Linked DNA regions of Homo sapiens. The protein of the gene in region 1 interacts with the protein of each later gene in a pairwise test. Each region holds a gene or a part of one and is shown on either strand. Other genes may lie near its edges. The genes, in order: OSER1 and LACC1.

Region 1 (4,412 bases):
TTTCTTTCAACCGGTCAGTTACTGAGCCTCTGGTATGAACGACGAGAATTTAAAATGTTTTATCCAGGGCCAACATCATGCTTCATGTTTAACAACGTTATACAATAAATTGTTAGATTTCATTTACAGACATAGGCCAGGCATTCCAAAGCCTGGCTGTAGTTAAGCTGGACACAGTTAAACCATCTTCGGCAGCCTATCTAGTTGACTACAACTAAGGTATTGGGGAATGACGGTGGATGGGGCCAGTTTTGGTTCAGGGAAAAACCCTCACTCTAGGGGTGGGCCACAATCAACGCCATCCAACTCAATTGCGCAAAATCATCTGTTCTCACGAAGCTTTGAGCAGTGCAGACGTGGAGCTGGAGATTGGCAGGCGAGGAGAGGCACAGCTAGATCAGCAGAACCAGTCCTGGTGATGGAGCGGGTGGCAGCTGTTGCACAGATCACCTTTTCCCGCCTACCATCTGAGCAACATTCAGAATCAGAAAAATGTAAAGAATCCTAAAATTCATCTCCTTTGGTGAACTGCCTAAATCTTTTTGCAAAATTTGGTGTGTAGGTGCATTTCTTTGGCAAGAGGATCTACAGTTCTCACCAGATTCTCAAAGGAGTCTACGCCTGAAAACACGAGATTCACCGATAAGGTTCAACTTCCTCACTTACTAGATGGAAAACTGAGAGGCCCAAAGGAGGAAAAGCAGTTGCCTCAAGACAAACAGCAGAGATATCAAAACCGAAGGCATTTCAATTCAATTCTAATTCTGGCTTCACACTATTGACCCTGGCCACGTCCAATACCTCTTCACTTCTCTGCAGGACCTAAAAGATCACCAGGAGGCGAGGGCTGGTGTCCGAGTCCCGGAGAGGTCGCAGGCAGTCCAGATTCTAGCATCACAGAAACTCTGGCCAAGCGCTCAGCCGGGGATTGTCTGCCATAAAGACCCCCGCACCCTGTCCTCGCCCCCGCCCCGTGGAATTCCTCTGCATAGGTGACTCCACGTAGAGGACCGAGCGCAAGGAGATCCCGGGGCGGTGGAGGCAGAGGACTACTGTGAAGAATGACGCCTACTCACTCACCTAACAGAGAGGAGGAAGCAGGCACGCCCCAAAAGCGGGTCGGGAGCAAATCCACGCCACTGGGAGGAGGCAAACCGAAGAATAACAGGAAATTACGTAAGGCGCACGTGCTTCTGAGGGGGGCGGGTGCGGGGCGTTGGAGAGGCGCGGCCGCCGCCCTGCGTCTGCGCAGTCGTCGGCTGCCGCGCTGCCGAGTCACTGGGGTGGGAGGAGCATAAGCAGGGGGAGGGGTGCATGCCGGAGTGCGCAGGCGCAACGCGACTCCCGAGGCGCGGGCCGCCCCCTTGGCTGGTTTGGATCCGGGTCAGTCGGGTGCCGAGATTTGGGAGAGACGCTCTGAACTGACTGCCCCGCATCACCGGAGCGTCCCAGCTGCGAGGAGGTAAGTGCCCTGACGTGACGGGGAGGGGCCGCAGCACTGCGTCTCAGCTTCCACTGCCGGTCTGGCCGCGGGCGGTTTTCCCCGGGCCCGCCCGCCTTGGGTCGCGTCGTCTCCCGACGCCTCCTGCCTGGGCCGGGCCTGGGCCTCTCCGCGCCCCCTTATCTGCCGCGGCCTGTGCCTGCTGGAGCTCCGAGCTCCACGCTCTCTCCCCTTCCCGCCTTCCCGTCCTCCCGCGGTCCCCCGCCCCGTCTCGCTCCTCCGCCGTCTCCCGCCCAGCGGCAGCTTCCCCTTTTCGCCCTCCTTGGCCGCCCTTTGCCCCTTCCAGTCCTTTCTCTCTCGCCTCGGAGCCCCATTCTCTTTGGCTACCTCTTCGGCCCCACTCCTTTCTTCTCCCGCATCCCTTGTGCCTCGCTCCGACTCCAGCCTCTCGTTCTGACCCCAGGAATCTCCCGAGGAGCGCAACTTCACAGCTGGAGACCCCGGGCGGGCAGTGCCCCTGGACAGCTCCCTGCTTGGCGTTGTCCCCACACTCCAAGCCCCGTCCTACCCCTCTGGGTTCTGACTAGGAATTTTCCTCCGTTCATGTTTAACCGCGACAGGCACAGACTCTGGGTGAAAAGAAAGAACTTTGTGCTTTGGCTGCAGCGCTGCGAGTATAAAGGGATGAGTGGGTTGCACGGAGAGGTGTGAATGTGCTTTTTGTCCTGGGGGCCGATTGTTTCCTCCCGGTCTAGTTTGCCTCTTAGAGTTGCTGGGTTTGGTTTTCTTCCCCATACTCTACGCTTTCTGGTGGTCTGGGAGTTTCGAAATCTTTAATGTTGTGATGACAACGCTTACCCGCGCATCCCTTCTTGATCGTTCTTAGGTCTTCTCAGGGGCCTGGAAGTGTAGACCTAGGCTTGGGATTCAAGGAGGTCTTGGTTAAAACGGCAAGATGTAAATAAGATTGTGACGCATCCATTTTGTTGAAAGAAAAAACCAGGAATTTGGCCTTTTGATGGAGGAACTTAGAAGAACTTTGTAATTTTTGTAAGGTTGTGGAAAATCCGAGGCAAAGTTAAATTGCCTGGTGTGATTTGACTTTAACTTCGAATAGGCTTTTTAAAGTTTCATCTCTTTGGAGATTGTTCAACTTCACGAGTTCACTGCAGTGAAAACGCCAAGACTGTCTCCCACAAATTTAATATTAATGAAGAAAGGCAAGCCAATTATATCTGTTGTCCGGAGTTAGTTGTACAGCCCTTTCTTTGAATGGGGATCTGGGGATGCAGAGGAGCATAATGAGCCTTTTATAATTACAAACATGCTCTTCTCTAGCTCTTAAGGTTATGCCTAACGCTCATTTGCTCTTGGCTAAAATAACTGAGAAAAAAAGTGAGTAGTAAAAAAATGCTGGAAGTCTGAAAATGGTTTAGACAGAACTTCATTCCTGAAGTTTTAGTCTGTAGCCAGATTTTAATTCTGGCCTGTTTTGGTTTTTAGATGATAGATCTTTTAGTGTGTCAACAGGAATGTAAAGTTTGTATTAACATCTAGGGTGATCACCTGCCATGCTATTAAGTCAGCATGGTATAATTAAAAGTTACATATGTAGGTTCAGAGCCTCTTAGCACAGTGTTACATTGTAAGCTCTTGGAGGGCAGGAATGAGATTCTAGTCCTTACGGAAATGGAGTTTGGGCTTCTATCCCTAGCATTCATTCTAGTGCCATGCACGTGGTAGGAATTCTGTAAATATTTGTGAAAGAAATGAATTTCTGCCTGTAGGGTTCAGCAGTGTATACTTAAATGTGATGTGTACGTAAATGCTGACTGATTTCCAGAGAGGGCTAAAGAGGACTTGGGGGGCGGTCTGCGGGTTGGGGAGATTGGCTCAGATGATTTATGAACTCGGTAAGAGCTGAACATTGACTAACGGATCATAAGGTAATTGAGGAACATTGTAAGTCAAACTTCAATTTAGTTCTACCAGCAGGAAGGATTTGTTTACAACCTGCAATAGTACTCTTTTAGATGATGTGAAGCTTTGAAAATATTGAAATAAGTGATTGCTCACCTCTCCCCCCAGGTATATAGGAATTGATTGTGTATTTGGGGGATCCTACCCTAAACTGAGAATTAGAGACTAGTGAAGCATGGGATTGTGTGGATAATGTTTCTTCATGTTTATGTACTTAAATAAACCAGCAAAATATACGTCGAGAATGTATCTAAATTATTTTTTTGTCCTAAGAAGTTGAGGTGCAGGCTGGCTGAATTTTTTTTTTTTTTTTTAGTAGCTGAATTCTTTTGAGACTGTTTTCAGTGTTCCCCAGAGAGCTCTGCCTAAAATACCTTAACTTCCGCAAATAAGTAAAGTGAAAAGTCCTGATTCCTTGCCTCTTTATTTTGCGCTGGTACTACAATAATATAATGGTTACTTTATATCAAACATTATGACACCTTGACCTTTGGAATATTAGAGGTCTCACAATAACTTCGGAGCCACCTTGAGAAACGAGCAGATATGAATCAGAGAGGACCCAAGGGCCGTTGGAGAGGCACTGCTCCCTCTGAGAATGCCCAAGAGGGGTGGGGGCGGGGGGGGGCGGGTAAAGGCTTAGAAATAAAGAGGTGAAGTGAACCTTTTGCTTCAAATATTCTCTATTTCTATTTTTTTTGTGGTACTTTTCTTCTGATTCTCTCTGATATGTTCATAGATGCTGGTTTGCTTAATTTGTATTCAAAATTTGGTACTAATAACCCTGAGTGAAAAAATAATTTGGAGACTAGATTCAAGGGTTTATTAACAGACTTCTCTGTTGTGTTTCTTGTTGCTTTGGTTGGTTCTTCATCTACCTTTCTCTGTTTAAATATAAAAATCAGGTGGAAAATATGGAGGACTTTGATTAATCAAACTAGTTAAGAGATCATTTAGTGGTGCGTCTACACAATAGTCATTTCTGTTTTTT
Region 2 (3,819 bases), on another chromosome or scaffold:
TACAGAGGTTGAGATCTTGGTTCTGGTCCTGAATATTCTGTGGAAGAATTCCTCCCTGTTCTAGAAGAATCCTTAGGAAAAATATTTTTCAAAAGAGAGCAAGAGTTTATTTTCCCAATAGCCAAAGCAATATGAAAAAAAGTATGGATGTTGGCATGAAAAAGTTCCAGGAAAGATGTACCTAGAACAATGTATATTGTTATTCACTTACAGAACATGGACTAGTCAGGGAAAAAAATGCTACACTTTATCAGCATTTATCACCTAAGTTCATATATGCACAGTACAACCTTCCATATTGTCTTATAGACATAATCTAGGTACAGAATTTTATAATCAAAATCAAGTGCTTATTTAAGAAGAAATGTCTACAAAAGTTACCAGGATATCAGGCAAAATTCACCTGGCTCAGCCAGAGTATGCTTTTTAGTCATCTGGCCCTTCATCTCCTTTCCTTCTATTAGCCAGATTTTTCTCAGAAAACTTGCTTCTCCATGAACACTTTATGATATGAAATATGACTACAAGTTAGTGATACTTGATTTTAAAAGTCACATTTAAGAATCAATTTCAAACTTTTCCACATCTGTACTAAATGAGGCAGACTCTGGGTAAAGTTTTGGCGACTGGAATAGAAACATGATTTAAAACATACATTAATTTGCCTTTGTAGTAATGACAAATAATTTTCACCAGTTATTAATAACAAAACCTTGTAAATTAAAAGATGCGAAGAACTGTAAAAAACTTAAAAGTAAAAAACCGTGTATTTATATTATCTAATATTTTTTCTAAAAAACATATTCCTCTAGTTAATTAGATAATAAGAATAATTTTAAAATATCAGCTTCCTGATAGTTCATTACATTTAGGAGAATTTAGCTGAGGAATGGCTGTGAAGTAAAGTACACGCCAACTTTTCTATATGAAGTTTAAGTAGATCTCTTAAAATTAAATGCCAAATATTTCTTCCTTCACTTTTAAATCAATGAAAGATACCAGACAGGAAAATTTCTGTTATTCAAACTCAAATGAAAACAGATTTCATATTTAAAATGAGTGTTTGTGTACATGTGCATGTCAGCTGCTTAAATAACCACCACCTAAATTCTTCTTAGAGTTATTAATTGTTCTCCAAAATAAATTTCATTTTAGAACAATCAGAAATAATCAAACTTGCAGTTGAATGAAATCAGACATACCTTGTGGCTTTACGGATGTCGATACAGGGATTTGGTGAATCAAATAGTTGTACACATGCAGGATGAAGATTATGAAATGCCTCTGCTGATTCCCTTGGAAGAGTAAAACAGCAAGGTCCTACTGAAGGTCCAAGTACAACAACAATGTCTTCCAAACTGCAGCCATATTCTGCTATCATAGCATTCACTGTAGCCATAGCAACACCCAACAAAGTACCTTTCCAACCTGGTAAATAGGAATAAAAAGAGATAAGAGAAGTCAAAACATAAAAAATTTCACCTGAATTTATGTCTAAGTTAAAAGTGAGCAGATTTAGTTTGTATATTTTTCAAAGTCCAGAAATAATAAATTACATTATCATGTGGTTTTTAAATGAGCCATACTACACAAAGCACCTGACACAGAAGAGACATGTAATGGGAGTTTTCTTCATCTTCCATTTAAAGATGCTCTATACTTTTAGTTTCCACTGAGATCATAGCTTCTTAGTCTTCTATTTTTCACATTTTAAAAGATTGTGGTTAAAAACCCACAAAATTTACTATTATAACCACAAAAAAATACTATTCTAAGTATACAGTTCAGTAGTGTTGAACTCACATTGTTGTATAACCAATCTCCAGAATTTTTTCATTTGATAAAATGGAAACTCTACAACTATTAACAATAACTCCTTGTTTCTTCCTTTTACCAGCCCCTGGCAATCACCATTCTTCTTCCAGTTCCTGTACATTTGATTACTGTAGGTATATCATATAAGTGAAATCAATACAGTATTTATCTTTTTGTGACTGACTGATTTCACTTAGCATAATGTCCTTAAGGTTCATCTATATTGTAGTATGTGTCAGAATATCCTGCCTTTTTAAAGCTAAATAATATTCCATTGTATGCACACACATTTTGCTTATCCATTCATCTACCAATGTACCTTAGATTGCTTTCACCTTTTGGCTATTGCGAATAATCGTGTTATCAACATTGGTGTGCAAATATCTCTTTGAGTTCCTGATTTCAGTTATTTTGGATATACTTCCAGAAGAGGAATTTCTGGATTATATGGTAATCTATTTATAATTTTTTGAGAAATTGCCATACTGTTTTCTATAGTGGCTACACAATTTCACATTCCCACCACCAGTGCACCAGGATTTCAACTTCTCCATATCCTCAACAACACTTATTTTCTGAGGTTTTAAAATATTAGCCATCCTAATGGATGTGGGGTGATATTTCACTGTGGTTTTGATTTGCGTTTCTCTAACTTCTAATCCATGAACACAGAATTTCTCTGCATTTATTTGTGTCTTCTTTAATGTCCTTCAGCAATGTTTTGCAGTTTTCATCTCTCCCTTTTTACAAAAATATATCTATTATATTTCAATTAACAGCCTCTTTTTACTCCCTTCCCACTTGCCCAGACTATCGTTCCCTTGCCATCTTTGTCTTATCTGCCTTGCATCTTACAGTGTTCTAAGATAAAACCATCTTCTTTACTTATGCTACCTTCTTGTTGCCAAAGACAGAAAGCTAAGAATATTGCATTTTTCCTTTATTCCCTATATCTGGGTTTGATTCAGCTGATATGGTTGGCCAATAATGAGTACCCTTACACCTTCCTTAAGCACTCCATACTCATACCCTTCAAAAGGTAGGCACTCAGGTGAAGGGATCAATTTTTACAGATAAAAGGAGATGATGAAAGCAAGAAGGACTTAGGTGACAGGTTCAGCCTCTACAGGTAACCCACTGAATATGTGGTTATGGGAAGTACAGAATGAAGACATCAAGTTTCTATCTGTAAGTGGGTAGGATATCAATAATTAAAACAGGAAACCTAACTGGCAGAGAAGACTTTAGGAAAAAAATGTTGAGTTTTTGACATAATGATTTTCAGGCACCTAGGAAGATGCAGACAGTGATGTTCAAAGGGAAGCAACTAGATATAGGCATTTTGAGTTAAAGAGAGAAACTGTCAGGGCTTTTCTACAGATGAGAGTAGCTCTCTTCCTCAGTGAGCCTCCTTAGTTATCCTCTCACTTGTAGTTCATCCACCTCCTTTCTATTTGATTTTTCTATGCCTATCTATATATACATATCTAGTTAAAAGATCTTTATTAAATTAGTCCCATAGAAGAATTTTATTCTTTTTGATATCTGATAAAAGTAGTATACAATGTAGCTAATTATATTATATTTTAAAGTTAATTTATTTTTATTCTTCCAACTTTTTAGGTTCGGGGTACATATATGCAGGTTTGTTACATGGGTAAATTGCATGTCACTGGGGTTTCGTGTACAAACGATTTCATCACCCAAGTAGTGGACATAGTACCGAACAGACAGTTCTTCAGTCGTCACCCTCCTCCCACCCACCACCCTTAAGTAAGCCCCCATGTCCATTGTCCCTTTTTTTGTGTCCATGTGTACTCAATGTGTAGCTCCCACTTAAAGGATACATATGGTATCTGATTTTCTGTTCCTGCATTAATTCATTTAGGATGGCTTCCAGCTGCATCTATGTTGCTGTAAGGATATGATTTCATTCTTTTTTATGGCTTTATAGTATTCCATTATGTATATGTACCATATTTTCTTTATCCAGTCCACCACTGA

Evidence for each region.
Region 2: the proteins of OSER1 (region 1) and LACC1 interact in binary tests that used the Homo sapiens proteins (3 or more experiments, as listed by UniProt).

Annotation. Positions count from the first base shown.
Region 1 is NC_000020.11:44,207,746-44,212,157, reverse strand, and holds the start of OSER1 (oxidative stress-responsive serine-rich protein 1), read left to right. Parts: upstream 1-1,386; 5' UTR 1,387-1,462; exon of another isoform or gene 1,463-4,412.
Region 2 is NC_000013.11:43,886,366-43,890,184, reverse strand, and holds part of LACC1 (purine nucleoside phosphorylase LACC1), read right to left. Parts: exon of another isoform or gene 3,395-3,819; intron 1,429-3,394; coding exon 1,203-1,428; intron 72-1,202; coding exon 1-71. UniProt on the Homo sapiens protein: Purine nucleoside enzyme that catalyzes the phosphorolysis of adenosine, guanosine and inosine nucleosides, yielding D-ribose 1-phosphate and the respective free bases, adenine, guanine and hypoxanthine.